Regions from separate parts of the Homo sapiens genome. Here region 1 is linked to region 2. Evidence: fine-mapped expression QTL. A gene starts in region 2. The other region holds a variant in brackets. All regions are shown on one strand. Distances are from middle to middle. Region 1 overlaps FREM2 (FRAS1 related extracellular matrix 2). Region 2 holds the start of FREM2 (FRAS1 related extracellular matrix 2).

Evidence for each region. PIP is the estimated chance that this variant, and not a neighbour inherited with it, causes the effect. A credible set is the group of variants that fine-mapping cannot tell apart.
Region 1: its variant is the best candidate, but not a certain one, in a credible set for the expression of FREM2 in amygdala (GTEx, PIP 0.89).

What each region holds. Positions count from the first base shown.
Region 1 is chr13:38,747,865-38,752,260 of GRCh38, forward strand. The region is part of intron 2 of FREM2 (FRAS1 related extracellular matrix 2); the gene reads left to right. Among named protein-coding and RNA genes, the nearest start is that of FREM2, 63 kb to the left of the region's middle. The variant T/C (reference allele first, on the strand shown) is at 2,092.
Region 2 is chr13:38,684,604-38,688,999 of GRCh38, forward strand. It overlaps FREM2 (FRAS1 related extracellular matrix 2), which reads left to right and starts at 2,474. Exons shown (of 24, transcript NM_207361.6): 1 at 2,474-4,396. The coding sequence starts at 2,742. It overlaps LINC00437 (long intergenic non-protein coding RNA 437), which reads right to left and starts at 2,072. Exons shown (of 3, transcript NR_126377.1): 1 at 1,836-2,072.

The DNA.
Region 1 (4,396 bases), 63 kb after region 2:
AAAACCCAGCTTAGTCCATGCTTCCCATACTGGTAGTTTTAATAGCTTCAGAAGCATTCTTCTTAGTAAGCCTTTAAATCCCTTATCAGAGCTGGGCAGATCGTAAGGTTCAAATATCCACAGGGACTAAGATCCAACTGAAAACAGGAGGCCGACATAGCTCGTTGTACATTGTTGGTGATTTTAGCTGTGTTTTTTGGAACTGGCCAAAATCCTAACCTTTGTCTCTTCTGAGATCTGATCCCGCATTTGACTAATTAAAAAAAAGGGCTGGGGCATTATATAGTTAAGTTGCAAAAAAAGCAAAGCGTGTGTTCCAACAGTAAATGTGGTCTGTCTGTGGAACGAATATACCAGTAGTCAGTTGTGTTTACCTGAACTTATATTTTTCTTGGCATTCTACAAACTAACATATTTATTTTGCCATTTGGATTAGGAAATGGAAATGACATGAACCAGAATTTGTATTGCTGGTAGGGAAGAAGTTTTTAAATTGTATTTGGATTTGTTCCTCAAGATTATGATGTGCAGTTCTAACTATTAGTGTCAAATATGACAAACGAAAATTATGTGACCTGCATGTGATTGATACTGCACAGGCTCTCTGCTCATATCTGTGTTTTGGATGGTTTGTACTCAAAGGCAACTTGTCCCAAATTATGCGCTGTAGATCAGAGTCTTAACATGATGCCTTAAGACACAGGTTCCCTGCTGAAATGAGATTGAGAAATGCTGTGTGCTCCAATCCCTTCCTTAGACTTCCTCAGTGCATATTCACATATTAAAGACCCTAGGAATTACTGCAGGTAAGAATGTTGTTTACATAGCTTAATACAGCTTATTTTTCCCTTAGTTAACATAGAGTGATTTTTTTTAAAATGTAATACCTATTAACTACCAGGAAAAATAAGATTCAAAAAAATTATTTTGGGAAGTGCTTTCCCAAATTGTTCAACGGAAAAACATGTAAAGGATGCTGTGAGCTCTATGTTTTTGGAAAGGAAGGCATTTTTGTTCTTTGTAAGAACAAAGGTAAGGCTGTGCATGCATGTGTGTGCAGGTACATGTGTGTGTACTGACAAGCACATGTGCATTGGAACATGTAGTATTTCTCTTTTGGGCTACAATAAAGACATGGGAGTCTGGATAACTTGTGTTCAGTGCCCAGTCTTGTCTATCTGCAGTGACCTTAGGAAGCCTTTCTATTTTGTGTTCTCGGCTCTAACATGGGTTGGTGAAGCCTAATCTGCTTAAAACATCTAACATGGAAATCATCACCCACATATTTGATTTCATACTGAAATCTAAATCATGCATACAGTATCAAACTTTGACACAGTTTGGTGCATTTCTCAAGATCCTTCCTCACCTCTAACTTCCGAAAGGATTAGCCATAAATGTTGACAGTAGGAAAATTACTGGCTCAACTACTTTCTGCAACAAGAGAATAAACACTTCCTACAGGAAACTTTTCCACATCAATGATGGACTTGAAAAGTTCTGCATATTTATGTAAGAAGAGGAGGCAGTTTTATCATTTCATCATATATATTCACAATTCAATTTATAAGAAAACATGAATTACCAAGAAAAGTCAGATCATATGTTCATGTTAGGTTATAAATGTTGATATATCACAATATAACAAGTACAGACCACGGTTTCTCAACCCCAGTGCTATTGACATTTGGGGCCAGATAATTCTAATGCTTTGTGTGTGTGTTGGGTGGGAGGGTCTGACTGTCCTGTGCCTTGTGGGATCTGTAGCTCCCTGGCCCCTACCCATTAGATGTCAGTAACACCCCCTGCCTTGCCCTTCACCCCCTCCCCAACTTGTGACAGCCAAAACTATCTCCAGACATCGCCAAACATTCCCCAAAGGGCAAAATTATTGCCCCTTCTCCAAGAACTACTGGTTTAGACCTTATTATTAATTGTAAAGTCAATGTATTCACTTTCCAAGTCTGCTCTTTAAAAAGTTTATGCATGCAATTAGTATGAATTCTCTGCAGTAATCATTGTCTCAAATCCTCCACATATTCAAAAATGCCACCTGCATTTTATATTAACCAAGTGCAGCAAAACATAGTT[T/C]ATCTTGGCCTAGGAGAAAAATTTTGTCACACTGATCCTCATTTTCTTCCTAAGTTGAAAGAGAGAGAAGGAAAGGGGTAGGGCCTAACTTTTACCTGTATGTAGTATGCATTTGGATTTTGGCTAAATAGTTGCTTAGGACCAAAACTCCTCCAAGAAATTTATTCGTCATTTATTTTTACTAATCAAAATGAATGGACTCTTTGAGTACCTCTGATATGGTTTGGCTCTGTGTCCCCACCCAAACCTCATCTTGTAGCTTCCATAATTCCCACGTGTTGTGGGAGGGACCTGGTAGGAGGTAACTGAATCATGAGGGCCGGTCTTTCCCTTGCTGTTCTTGTGATAATGAATGGGTCTCACGAGATCCGATGGTTTTTAAAACGGGAGTGAGACTTACCTATGAGTGAGATCCATGTGTTTTGTGTTTTTCTGTGCCTAGCTTATTTTACTTAGTATAACGACTTCCAGTACCAACCATATTGCTGCAAATGGCAAGAGTTCATTTTTTTTATGGTTGAATGATACTCTACTATGTATATAGAACACATTTTCTTTATCCATTCATCCATTGATGAATACTTAAATTGATTCCATATATTGGCTATTGTGAATACTGCTGCAGTAGACTTGGGAGTGCAGATATCTCTTCAGTACACTGATTTCCTTTCTTTTGGGTATATACCTAGCAGTGGGATAACTGGGTCATATGGTAGTTCTGTTTTTAGCCATGCTGTTTTCTTCTTTTTTTTTTTTGAGACGAAGTCTCACTCTGTTGCCTAGGCTAGAGTGCAGTGGCACAATGTCAGCTCACTACAACCTCTGCCTCTGGGGTTCAAGCGGTTCTCCTGCTCAGCCTCCCAAGTAGCTGGTATTACAGGCACCCACCACCACACCCAACTGATTTTTGTACTTTTTAGTAGAGATGGGATTTTGCCATATTGGCCAGGCTGGTCTTGAACTCATGACCTTAGGTGATCTGCCTGCCTTGGCCTCCCAAAGCCATGCTGTTTTCTGTAGTGGCTGCACTACACTTTACATTTCCACCAACAATTCTACCACAGTTTTGTTTTTTGTTTTTTTCATCCATGGATAAGCACTGAGGTTGATTCCATGTCTCAGCCATTGTAAATAACGCTACAGTGAACATGGGAATGCAGATATTCCTTCAATATCCTGATTTAATATTCTTTGAATATATACTCAGAAGTGGGATTGCTGGATCATATGACAGTTCTTTTTTTTTTTTTTTTGAGGAACTTCTGTATTGTTTTTCATAAGGGCTGTACCAATTTACATTCACATCAACAGTGTACAGCAATTCCCTTTTCTCCACATCCTTGCCAACACCTGCTGTCTCCAAATCAATATTTCTTAAAGCGTGGTGCAAATTATGTCTCTCTATGCCCCAAGTTTCCTTTGTGAGCAGCCTGGTTTTCCAGCTTATCTCCTCCTCCCCTTTTCCTTTCACAAACCCTACAGAGCTTGACTCTTATTGCTGCCCACACACATGCTGCACTTGTCCTTCCCTGAATCGGTTTTCTTGCAGTTCCTTCCTCTGGGAGGGGCCCATCCTCCATCCACAGACCCTTGTGCCAAGCCTTTAATGGTCTTTCCAACCCAATGTGCTCCCCTCCCTCCTCTGAGCCCCAGGAGATTTCTGTTAGCTTTTCACCTTAGATTTTGTATTATAATGTATGTATAGTATTTGGTTTACCCTCCTTACTAGAGTCTACATTTCACAGAAAGGACTATATGTAAACCAACTTTATACTTCCTAACATATGTGCTTTTCATGGACCTCGTTCCAAAATATCAATTAAATAAAACTGTACATTGTCTAACTTTTTTTTTTTTCTAACAAGGACTGGAGCTCTAAGACCACACCAACTTGTTTTTGTACTTACTCTGTGTGTGTGTGTGTGTGTGTGTGTGTGTGTGTTTTCCTTTTGGCAGCCAAATATACAAAATGAACAGCTTTTATATTAATCTGAGATAGTGAAATTAATGAGAAGGGCTGCTTTTGTGGCTCTGGCACAATTCTAAAGGGATCAGAGCAATCACCAAAGGGTTCAACTAATTAAATAATACTACACGCTAAGCAGCAAAGCTAGCTTCGCAAAACTAATCTGAAATAAATGAAAAGAAAATGTGAAAAACAAGTGTATGACATTGATGCTGTAATACTCCATCCTCTCTTTGTCCCTGTCTCTGTCTGTCTCCACCACATTGTCACTTCCCACCCTGCTTTCTCTTTCCCTCCTTCTCTCCTTCCTTTTTGACAGATATCAATGACACATCTCAT
Region 2 (4,396 bases):
TTTAGCCAAATGATAGTTTGAGTTACCTTCTATTTGATTTACAAGACAAATAACTAAGACATTTACCAAAAAATAATAATAATCTCTAAAAATCATTCTATCACTTCGATCAAGGCAGACAAAATTAAAAAGTCAAAAAGATTATAGTTTATTGATTTCCTTAGGCTATGTAAAAATAAATGTGGTCCTGTATTTTTCTTACCATGAAACAAAATATTGAACTCTGCCCTTGAGGCATACTACCATACTTCAAATGCTGATCTTATCATTGCTTGCAAGTCAAACAGAGTTGGACTTTAAAAGGAGGAAAGGAAAACCCTGGAGCCACTAAGAAGCATCAAGGGTCAAGCTGTTAGTCTGGTTCTGCTCAGAATTTACCCAGGGTCACAATGCCTGGATAAGGCCACTTTGCTTCCAGATGACATTTTTCAATACAAACACACAACCAGAATTTGAAATTTACTATAAAAAGAGCCATATTCTGAAATTGGTTTTCTAGTTTACTTGGCATCTTATTTGTTTTAATTTGGAACAGGAAATAGCAGAATTTCCCCCCATGTTCCGCATTTTGAATTCTGTATGCGATAATAAATAATCATATAAATTATAAAATAATAATGACAAAGCAAATAGGAAATTGGTAAAGAGTTAGATGGGGGATTTTCTAATGTATTTAAAGTAAGGGCCACATCCCTTCTATGCTCCTGGATGCCCATTTTGTAATAAATTGTGAAATGTATCCATCAGTTTCTAAGTTGTAGTTAAAAGCTCCTCAAACAATGCACAGCACACAGAATAATCTTAATTAATATTTAATTAACTAAATGTTACTTGTTTGCGTGCTTGCACACTTGCTTGGATGAGTGACTCCTTTAAATTGATCTCTTGCTTCTTTTTGAAAGATTTTAGAACTTCCTGTCTATGATTCCTGGAAACGGACACCACTCAGTAGGTTTCATGGAAAGGAATCTGGCATCTCCCAGCCATACTTATGTACAGAGTTTGTGCTGCAGCCTGGAAAATAGCTGTAACTGTGTCAAGCAAGGATCAAAATCCTGGTCTGGAGGAGCTCAAGCTGAAAACACAAAGGCTTAAAAGGATAGGCACTTCTTACTGAAATTACTCCCATAGGCACCTTCTAGCTTCAATTTAGACTGAAATGTAAAAAGACATTAACAATTTCTTATATTTCCCTCTTTTCCAAATTCAAAATCCCTTGGAGCAGGAAAAGGGCAATTATGGCTAATTATGACTATTACTCCAATTCTATGCTCCTGTTAGCAATCAGATTTGCATTACTGGAGAAAAAAAATATTATCCTAAATAAAACATTCTGACTATGATTGCTTAGGAGCCAATCCGAAAATGATTAAGTTTAAATTACAAGGGATCTTTTTTGAGGGGGGGAGGAGAGTTGATAAAAAAACCTTTTAGAAAGGGAATCTACACACTACTAAAACCAAACAAACACAAGGGGGCAGGAAGAGCTCAAGCTCTGACTTCAAAACCTGTTGGCTGAAATGAGAGCTAAACTATTTTAGTGTGCCCTCCGGATATTTATCAATTTTCGTGGCATGCAAAGAAATGTGATGCTGACAAGTAGATTTAGTTTGTGCTTGGTCTAATTACTGCGAAGAGAACAGGAACGTCTCTAATGACAGCTACCCTAACAGAGTCGGATTTGGGAGCGCCTGGGGCCACATTCCCTAGAATTTATTCTTTGGTGCAAGACTAGCAATTCTGATCAGACTGCATTTCTCACGCATTCCAAATGCCCTTTTTCCCTTTTACTCTGTGAACCTCGGTTGCAAAGGAGGGGCTTGTTAAAAACTCACCAATCGGAGGACTGTGCCCATTGTAATTCACGAGGAGAAGGCAGCGTCTGGGCGCGCCGAAGGGGGCTGGGCTGGAGTGCAACCTGCTCTAGCTATGGCTTTTAATTCCAGCTGTCCTTTTGCAAATATGCCCCAGAATTTCTTCTCAAACGCTCTGGGTTTCGCTTCAAACTCAAAAAGCATTGCGTCTAACTTTCCCCTGGGTTTGCAAGTTTCCTTGGGAAATGGCCATGCCCTGCGCGGGATTTCATTGACTAGGGCGGAGGGGTGGGGGTGGCTAAAATGGGTAACCCTCGGTCGCCGGCAGATGAAGTGAACCCAGCACAGCAGTGTGTTCCGGCTCCTCTGCAGGAGTACCAGATCTATTAATAGCAGCCCAGAGAGTAGCGCAAGCAGGGGTGGGCAACTCCTGGCCACTTCTTCCCTCACTTCCAGGACAACCTGTTGCGCCTCTATCTCCTCCCCTCCCCGCAGTTTCCCCGCCTTGGCCTCTAAGAGCTGATTGGCAGAAATTACTACCCAACCCTCAGCTCCGCACCTCCTCCCCCGACCAACGATTGGCCACCTGGGAGGACTGGAGTAAGGGGTGCGAGCGGAGGGATTTCCCTCAAAGCCCAGGGTCCGGGGACCTGGAAAGTAGAAGTGGAGGGATTCAATTCTCCGCGCGATTGAGGCGCTAGCGGCGGAGCTGGACGGCCTGGGAAGGCTTCGGCTCCTCGGCTGCGGCTCCAGCCCGGACGGCGCCGCGCAACTTTGCCATCCTTCTGGCCCAGCCCCGGCTACAGGAGGACCCCGCGGGCAACGCGCGGAGTTCCTGGCACTTCCCGGCGGTGTCTCTTGTTGTCTGCCCGGGGACCGACTTCGCATGCTCTCAGGCTGACCTGTCCAAGCCCGAACACCGGGACCATGCACTCAGCCGGGACTCCCGGGTTATCCTCGCGCCGGACAGGCAACTCCACCAGCTTTCAACCAGGACCGCCACCGCCGCCCCGGCTGCTGCTGCTGCTGCTGCTTCTCCTGTCACTGGTAAGCCGCGTCCCGGCACAGCCCGCTGCCTTCGGCAGGGCGTTGCTGTCCCCTGGTCTCGCGGGGGCTGCAGGGGTCCCTGCTGAGGAGGCCATAGTGCTGGCGAACCGCGGACTCCGGGTGCCTTTCGGCCGTGAAGTCTGGCTGGATCCCCTGCATGACCTGGTGTTGCAGGTGCAGCCCGGGGACCGCTGCGCGGTTTCGGTACTAGACAACGACGCACTGGCCCAGCGACCGGGCCGCCTGAGTCCCAAGCGCTTCCCGTGCGACTTTGGCCCTGGCGAGGTGCGCTACTCTCACCTGGGCGCGCGCAGCCCGTCTCGGGACCGCGTCCGGCTGCAGCTGCGCTATGACGCGCCCGGAGGGGCAGTAGTGCTACCACTGGTACTGGAGGTGGAGGTGGTCTTCACCCAGCTGGAGGTTGTGACTCGGAACTTGCCTCTGGTCGTGGAAGAGCTGCTGGGGACCAGCAATGCCCTGGACGCGCGGAGCCTGGAGTTCGCCTTCCAGCCCGAGACAGAGGAGTGCCGCGTGGGCATCCTGTCCGGCTTGGGCGCGCTGCCTCGCTATGGAGAACTCCTCCACTACCCGCAGGTCCCTGGAGGAGCCAGAGAGGGAGGCGCCCCGGAGACTCTCCTGATGGACTGCAAAGCTTTCCAGGAACTAGGCGTGCGCTATCGCCACACAGCCGCCAGTCGCTCACCAAACAGGGACTGGATACCCATGGTGGTGGAGCTGCGTTCACGAGGGGCTCCTGTGGGCAGCCCTGCTTTGAAACGCGAGCACTTCCAGGTTCTGGTGAGGATCCGAGGAGGGGCCGAGAACACTGCACCCAAGCCCAGTTTCGTGGCCATGATGATGATGGAGGTGGACCAGTTTGTACTGACGGCCCTGACCCCAGACATGCTGGCAGCCGAGGATGCTGAGTCTCCCTCTGACCTGTTGATCTTCAACCTTACTTCTCCATTCCAGCCTGGCCAGGGCTACTTGGTGAGCACCGATGATCGCAGCCTGCCCCTTTCCTCCTTCACTCAGAGGGATCTGCGGCTCCTGAAGATTGCCTACCAGCCCCCTTCTGAAGACTCTGACCAGGAGCGCCTCTTTGAACTGGAATTGGAGGTAGTGGATCTAGAAGGAGCAGCTTCAGACCCTTTTGCCTTCATGGTAGTGGTGAAGCCCATGAACACAATGGCTCCGGTGGTCACCCGGAATACCGGTCTTATTCTCTATGAGGGTCAGTCTCGGCCCCTCACAGGCCCTGCAGGCAGTGGTCCGCAAAACTTGGTCATCAGCGATGAGGATGACCTAGAAGCAGTGCGGCTAGAGGTGGTGGCTGGGCTCCGGCATGGTCACCTTGTCATTCTGGGTGCTTCCAGTGGCAGCTCTGCTCCCAAGAGCTTTACAGTGGCTGAGCTGGCAGCCGGCCAGGTGGTCTACCAGCATGATGACAGAGACGGCTCGCTGAGCGACAACCTGGTGCTTCGCATGGTGGATGGAGGAGGCAGGCACCAGGTACAGTTTCTGTTCCCCATCAC